Linked DNA regions of Homo sapiens. The protein of the gene in region 2 interacts with the protein of the main gene of each other region in a pairwise test. Each region holds a gene or a part of one and is shown on either strand. Other genes may lie near its edges.

Region 1 (3,825 bases), on a different chromosome or scaffold from region 2:
GCTCTGAGTCTTGGTTTACTGATTTGGTAAAGTGGGGATAGCAGTTTTACCTAACTTAGGGCTGTTGAAGATTTCAGTGAAATAATGCAGTGCAGTGTTTAGCACAGTGCCTGCTGGGAAGCTAATGCTTACAGAGTGCTCACTATTGTAATTATACGTGATGCTGTGGGAGAACCAAGAAGCACCTCTTGAGCTGTTTCTCAGGATCCTAGTGATAGTGTCGTGGTCATGATGAAAGTTAGGTATTGAATGTGAAGGTCAAGTCGTCTGAGAGATCAACTCTGAAGTCACCAAGCGCTCAAGGAGTCCTCAGGACCTTCCTCACTAGCCCTGTGGCTGATATTATGGCTCCAGGGCTATAGGCTTGTCTGTAAGTGTTTCCTCCCCACTTTCTGCGTGAGCTCTTCTGAAAGATACATTTCACCTGTCATCATTGTGAACACCTTTTCTTTGTCTGAGTACCTGCACTGATCATTCCATGACTTCTCCCCAAGGAGAGGCATGAGTTGTACTTGTCTCACCTGTGCTTGCTGAGGAGCGCAGAGACCTGAAGACCCAGAACAGCAAATAATTCCTTGGTTTTTCTGTAGAGCTTTCAAGTCTGTCGTGTTCTTCTTTGCAGGAGATTTATCTCCTGAGCATCAGAGAGGCAGATAGGGCAGTGCTTAAAACACGGACTCTGGAGTTGGGACACAAACAGATGTGGGTTTGTGTCCTGACACCATCACTCACAAGCCATGTGGCTTTGAGCAAATGACTATACCTCTGTTTCCTCATCGATACAAGAGGTGAGATAGTACGCGCCTTTGTGTGGTTCGTACAGGGTTTCAGGGAGACGCTACAAAATAGGGCTTAGCAGAGGGCTTGCACATTGTGAGCACCCAGGAAGTGGGAGCTAGAATAGTGTCCTCTTTTCACCCAGGGTAGTAAGATTTTTAGGATGCTTTTCTCAGGGTATTAATGTATTGTCTGTGGAAGTTATATGAGTTACTGCACAAGCAATGTGTTAAAACACACATGTACTTGGTGATGGGGGGCTGGGAAGCATGTCCAGGGTGGCAGGCAGAACTCTTCCTGCGCTGGGATTGCAGAGGCAAGCCTCAGCTCCCACAAAGACATAGGGTACTGGTGAGGGAGAGGACGGAGCCATTCTGGGCGCGTTTGTCTCAGGCCCATTTAGGAACTGGGGGCTGCTTCTCAAGTTCTTTCTGTTTAATCATTCCATTATTCCGTGTAAATGATTGGTCTTTAATATAAACTGATAATACAACATGATACTTTCCCTCTTCAGGATTTAAATATTTATTTTTTAAGGTTAAGTCAATTTTTGAGTAAGCAGAAGAAAATTTGAATCTTTGGCCTTGACATCATAGGTTTCTTTTAAAATCATCTGAGATGAAAGGAAGAATAGGGAATGTATTTAAGTCCATGTTTATTGGATACAGTAATTATCACCCACTGTTGTATAAGCCTGATAACTAGGGCAAGGGAAGTTTGTGCTTTTGGCATATTTCTGAATAATTAAATATTTATGGAAAACAAGTTAATAGATTCAAGACAATTTGCTGTGTCTTTCTCTGGCATAAAGTTCGTTATGTGGAATTACAGAGAGGATTAGTCCTCTGTGCATCTGTTTATTTTTTCCTTCTAGGCACCATATCTCTAACACTTTCAGTCCACTAGCATTTATAGATTGCTCTCCTACTGGGCTCCCACAACTCTCTCACTGTGTGCCCTGCCTTAGCATATAGTACAATTGTGCCCACCAGTGACTCCCTCATGACCTTTCTCTAGACTTTACAGAGTGAGAGTCCACATTTGTTCTTGCGTATTCAGGGCCTACCCCAGGGCTGGTACAAGGCAGCCAGAATGGTCTGAGCATGCCATTCCCTTTGCTTAAAAGCCTCCAGTGGCTTCTAATTTCTGTCAGAAAAAAGACCACATCATTAGCATGGCCGGTGAGGTGTAAGAATATGCTTTCTAGGGTAATTGCTGGATATGTCTGTCTCTCCTGGTGCAGTACAGTCCCATCAGGTCATGGGCCGTGACTGTTTTGCCCACCAGCAGGTCCTCAGTGCCTAGCCTAGCATCCGGCCTGTAGTAGATGCTCCTTAAGTGTTTATTGGATGAACAAATGGAGTAAATAGTGGGCTCCCAGTGACTGATCTGAATCTATAAAATGAGAAGGTTGTTAGATCGGAGGTTCTGTCCATTATACAATATCTCAACCCTTTACAACACTTAAAAAGGTCTCTTCACACTTTTTATTCCAGCCTTATGTTGATTCTGCAGGTAGCTAGGGCAGGTTTTGATGTGCATAGAAGACAATGGAAGCTTAGAGAGGTTAAACACATTGCCCAAGATGTAGCTGTGAGAGAAGCTGAGGGTCCTAACGCCTCAAGTGCCTGTTCTCATGCTCCTGGCTGCCTCAAGGTGTGGCTTCTGACACACTCATTGTAGAAGTCGCAGGTGAGATAAGGTGACAGGGCTTCATTGGAAAAAGGTACTTATAATAGTTTTTCTTGGTTTTAGATATTTCAGTTTCCAGATAATTGAATTTGAGGAGTTGAGTTAAATTTGGAATGATGGGTTTAAGGTCTTGTTTCATGCTTATGGGTCAGAAAATACTGAACTTTCCTGTAAATGGCTAAAGTATAGTAATGCTTGGTACCTGTGATGATTAGTTTGTAACTAGGGTTAAAATTTGTGTTCTTGTTGAGAAGACACAGTCTTGCTGAGTCACCTGGGCTGGAGTGCAGTGGCTATTCACAGGTGCGATTATAGCACACTACAGCCTTCAGCTCATGGCCTCAAGCGATCCTCCTGCCTCAGCCTCCCAAGTAGCTCCCAAGTGCCACTACACCTGGCTGACAACCTTTTTTGGTAAGATTAGAAGTTACTTGCTGATTGATATGTAGCATCCTTTGCTGTTTTCAGAAGATACTTGTTGTTTCAGTTAGTTTATTTCTTTAATGTATCTCTGGCTATATCTGCTATGGGACACTTTGGCAATGAGCATCACTATGGCCTTTGTGCTTATCACATATAGTGTCCGTCTATCCTGATGGTTACCAATCATTGAGTCTACTCTTTCCACTTTCCAGATGAGGATGGAGGCTTTGTTAGAGTTTCATACTGAAGTGCCCTGATTCCCCACCTGACAAATCCCATGAACTGGAACATGTCCATATGCATGTAACAGTTTCTCAACAGCTGCCTGCAGTTCATATACTGCTGCTAATAAACCATGCCCACGGTGAAGCATTTATCCCAGATGAAAGTGTCTGCTTCAGGGGCCTTTGTTGAATCTGCAGTGTGACTGTATAGGAAAAGGATGCAAACTTGACTTAGCCCACAGCTCCAATATCTAGTCCAGTGTTGGTGGCTAGTTAAGAAAAGACAGTGCCTGTTGTGGTCTGTTAACATGATAATCATTTCAGGGGGTTCTTAAGGACTAAGAGATTCTTGGAACCTAGTTTTATCAATATAGCCAGTAGTACTTGTTGAACAGAGAAGCAGCCTGGTATATAGAAAGATCAATGAATATGAAGTCAGAATGCCAAATGTGTCCATTTGCTTTGAGACTCCCACTTTCCATGTAAACAGGAATATCTTTGGTGTGCATGCATCCTTTTTCAGTAGGAAAGCCCCAGTTTTAATATCTGAGATTGTGTTATGAGGCTTAAGTCAGAACAAAGAGAGCTGGATGATGATAAAGGATTGTACCAATAACTGAAGGTAGTCTTATTCCTTATTCTTCCCTGTCCTCCGTAACTACTTGCCTACTAGCCCATCTGGCCATCCATCCATCCATGCAGTTCTTGT
Region 2 (3,825 bases):
GGCCATAATTTGGACATGAGTTGGACCCAAACACAAAACCAGCAAAAAAAAAAAAAAAAAGTAACTTCTAAAATCTGCTGTGTAAACGAATAGGCTGCTAACTCCCCAGAAGTCCATCTTAAACACTGGATTAACAGGGATGGTTTATTTTACCATTGTCCCATTTTATGTCATATTCTTAAGCCTTTACACAGGTTTCTAAGATGCCTTATATCTCAAGTTATTGCTTAAAATTGGTCTCACCCTGAATTAATGTAAATATATAAAAAAACCATGTTGTGGTCTTTGAAAAAGTTTTATGCATATATATATAAAATGTCTTTCAAATTTCAGTGTAGATGTGATTAATAAAAATACCAATTCATTAAAACATAACTCGAGGTGGGCAGATCACCTGAGGTCAGGAGTTCAAGACCAGCCTGGCCAACATGGTGAAATGCCATCTCTACTAAAGATACAAAAATCAGCTGGGCATGGTAGCAGGTGCCTGTAATTCCAGCTACTCAGGAGACAGAGGCACAAGAATCACTTGAACCTGGGAGGCGGAAGTTGCAGTGAGCCATGGTCACGCCACTGCACTCCAGCCTGGGCGATAGAGTGAGACTCAGTCTCAAAAAAAATAAAAAATAAGTTTATAAAAAATACATATATCTCAGTTCCTAGTAACATATTTGTCATTATATGTTCTCTAATAATGGATACTAAGAATATACTTTCTTGTAGGGCTCCGTGAAAACTGGACAGTAAGTGGAGGTCTTTGTACTGGGAGTATTGAGAATCATTCACTTGGACTATAAATTCACAACAGGATCAAATGACATTGGTTAAACAGGCAAACAGAAATGGACATAATTTAAATGTAGTGTTCTTTGTCTTTCACCAAAAAGGAAAAGCTACAAAATACTGTATATATGACTTTGGTCAGTATGAAGGTCACCGAAAGAACACTACTGTAGGGACCTTAGAAACTGAGAAGTCGGTTTCATCCTTAGGCACTTAGAGCACACACACTGTACAGCTGGTCACTGACAGGATGGGCTCAGGATGACTCCATGTGGTCACACTTGGGGCCAAAATTTCTCAATAGAGAGGCAGAGAAAATAACATTGTTAAGAAATGAGACAATGTTTGAGATTCTAATAAACCTGAATAAAGCGGTATGGTATGATTTTATCTGTGAACTGGGCTCTACCTCAGTCATCTAAAAATTGTGATTTTGGTTGGGCATGGTGGCTCACGCCTGTAATCCCAGTGCTTTGGGAGGCCAAAGTGGGTGGATCACCTGAGGTCAGGAGTTCATGACCAGCCTGGCCAACATGGTGAAACCCCATCTCTACTAAAACTAAAAAAATCAGCCAGGTGTGGTGGCATATGCCTGTAATCCCAGCTACTAGGGAGGCTGAGGCAGCAGAATCGTTTGAACCTGGGAGGCAGAAGTTGCAGAGAGCCAAGATCGCACCACTGCACTCCAGCCTGGGCGACAGAGTGAAGACTCTGTCTCAAAAAAATAAAAATTGTGAATCTATATGTAAAGCATCTAGAACTTCCCTTGGAACGTGGAACATGTTCTGTGTTATTTCCATTTCTTATCTCTCCAGATTGTCTCCTAAAGCTACTAACATCTAATTATTAAGTGTTGTATTATATCTCCAGATTATAATTGAGGAAAGAGAATTATAATCTAAGAATGACAACAGTAATTTAGGATTTTGAACAATTAGATGATAGACTAACTGTTGAACAGGCGATAGATGTCTTAAGTCCAGGTATCAATACTTCATCTCATTTACCAGGTCCTCCAGGTAGAGGAAAAAAACCACACACATACACAAGCAGGTATTTCCCTAAGCCCTTCTGGGCTTCACTCTGGCTACCAGGTGGCTTCATCTGGCCACTCCTATTTATGGCCATGAATGTTGACCTTCAATCTGCAGCAATTCCTCCAGCACCATAATATAAATCCTCACAGAAAAATGAAAAGGAGCTCTGACCAACTAGTAAAGAAAATCTGATCTAGAACCTCTTCCCGCTTTATCATTTTGTTAAGTTGGTAGATAAGCCCCAAATTCTAACCACCTCCTCCAGTCACATTTCTTTTGCAAACTCCTGTGCATACGTGTGTTTAAATCTGTTCTATTTATGCCATTACTCTTTTATCAGTTTGATTCACAGGCCTTGGTCACAAACCTAAGAGGGTAGAGGACAGCTTTTTTCCTCCCCTACAAATTCAATTTCTATTAGTCTTTATGTAGTAAAACCACTTCATTTTAGAACAAGTAGGAGGCATAAATTAATAAAAGAGTGTTAAGTGCTGTGCACTGAATTAAATTCTAGGCAGCAGTATATGTAATTTTGAGCACTGAAAAGAATCATTACTCTGGTATAGAGACATGGAAGAACAGTGTTCAAATTCACTAGGACTCTAGGTCAGAGGACCAAGAAATTCAGAAAATTTTGCCATTTAAAGTTTCATAGTTCTTTCATGATCCATATACTCCACATCTTTACCTAAAGAGTTACTGTATGGTTCCTATTTTCTGTGGCCTAACAGTACAGTGTCTTGGGGGAAGAGAGGTACATTTAATGTAACCATTTTTTAAAGCCCTGTTTTTACCCAATGGACTTAATTTCTCACTAATACAAGGAAATTTCCTCTCCCATCAAGTGAGTCTCCTTGGCTCACCCATTCTCATTTCCTACTCCTAGTCCTCCTTTAAGTTGAAACACACCACCTCGCCTTTATCTCCACCCAGCACCCTTTCCCCTGTTCCTTACTTAAACCCAAGTACTATCTTTGAGGATAGGGGAAGCCGTATCTCCTTATTGCAGACTTCCTAGTCCTCCTCCCGCCCTTCCTCAGAATTCTGTTCTTGAACTGAAGTCTAGTCTTTAATTTATAAATGCTGTCTCCCCAAATGAGATTAGATATTCCTCAAGGGCAGGAGTTATTTTTTTCTTTATTTTGTACAGAACAGTTCTCTACATCAAGGCGATTAATGAATGCTTACTAAAGTTTTCCTATTTATCAACTATCCATGTGCCTATAGTATGTTAGATGTTGGGAAGAACACAGTGAAATTTACATAGTTCTGCCTCTTGCAGGCTGTTTACATGCAAAGACTACAAACTTGCAGTAGTGTTTGGGCCAGTGTTTTGTTGGGCCAATGCAGTGTTGAAACTGTTCTGAATTAGAATATTTCTAAGCTAGGCATTCACTCTTTGGGTCACATATCTGTTACTCCCTCCCATTCAGCTTCACTAATTTATGTTACCTTCAGCCCCTTGTGAAACACTCTTAATTTCACAACTTTTAACTTACAAGGAATAAATTCATTCTTAAAATACAAGGCTCTTCCCATGTGAGATACTGATTAGAGTTATTTACTACTGCCAAAACTTTTAACATTATAACACCATGAGTGGTTCTACTTCTCAACCACCGACTTAGTGCATGTTGTGCATAGTATACTTACTATATGGAAAGTATAGTAAGAAAGGCTCATTTTAAAATTCTCAAATCCAAGGATAGATAGCGTATTCTAATGAGAAAGAAAACAAAACTGCTCAGCAACATTTTGCTCCCTTAAAAGCAAATGATTTTCAAGCTGGAAAGTATGGAAACCTCACTAAGAGAGAACTAAGGTGCAAGCAGAAGAGGTCATTTTAAAATAGTCCATGCCTTCACATTCTGGTGAATTATATTCCAGGGTACCAAAAGAACCTGCAGATGTCAGCACAGAACTATTCTGACAACCTCTATAAAAACATGGAGAAGAAGGGCAGTCTCAAGAGACTAGAGATTCAAACAGAACTTTTTTCCCCCAG

What was found.
Region 1: the proteins of AKAP19 (region 2) and RALGPS1 interact in a two-hybrid assay, tested with the Homo sapiens proteins (one large-scale study listed by BioGRID and IntAct).

What each region holds. Positions count from the first base shown.
Region 1 is NC_000009.12:126,920,957-126,924,781, forward strand, and holds part of RALGPS1 (ras-specific guanine nucleotide-releasing factor RalGPS1), read left to right. Parts: intron 1-3,825.
Region 2 is NC_000002.12:190,183,645-190,187,469, reverse strand, and holds part of AKAP19 (small membrane A-kinase anchor protein), read right to left. Parts: intron 1-3,825.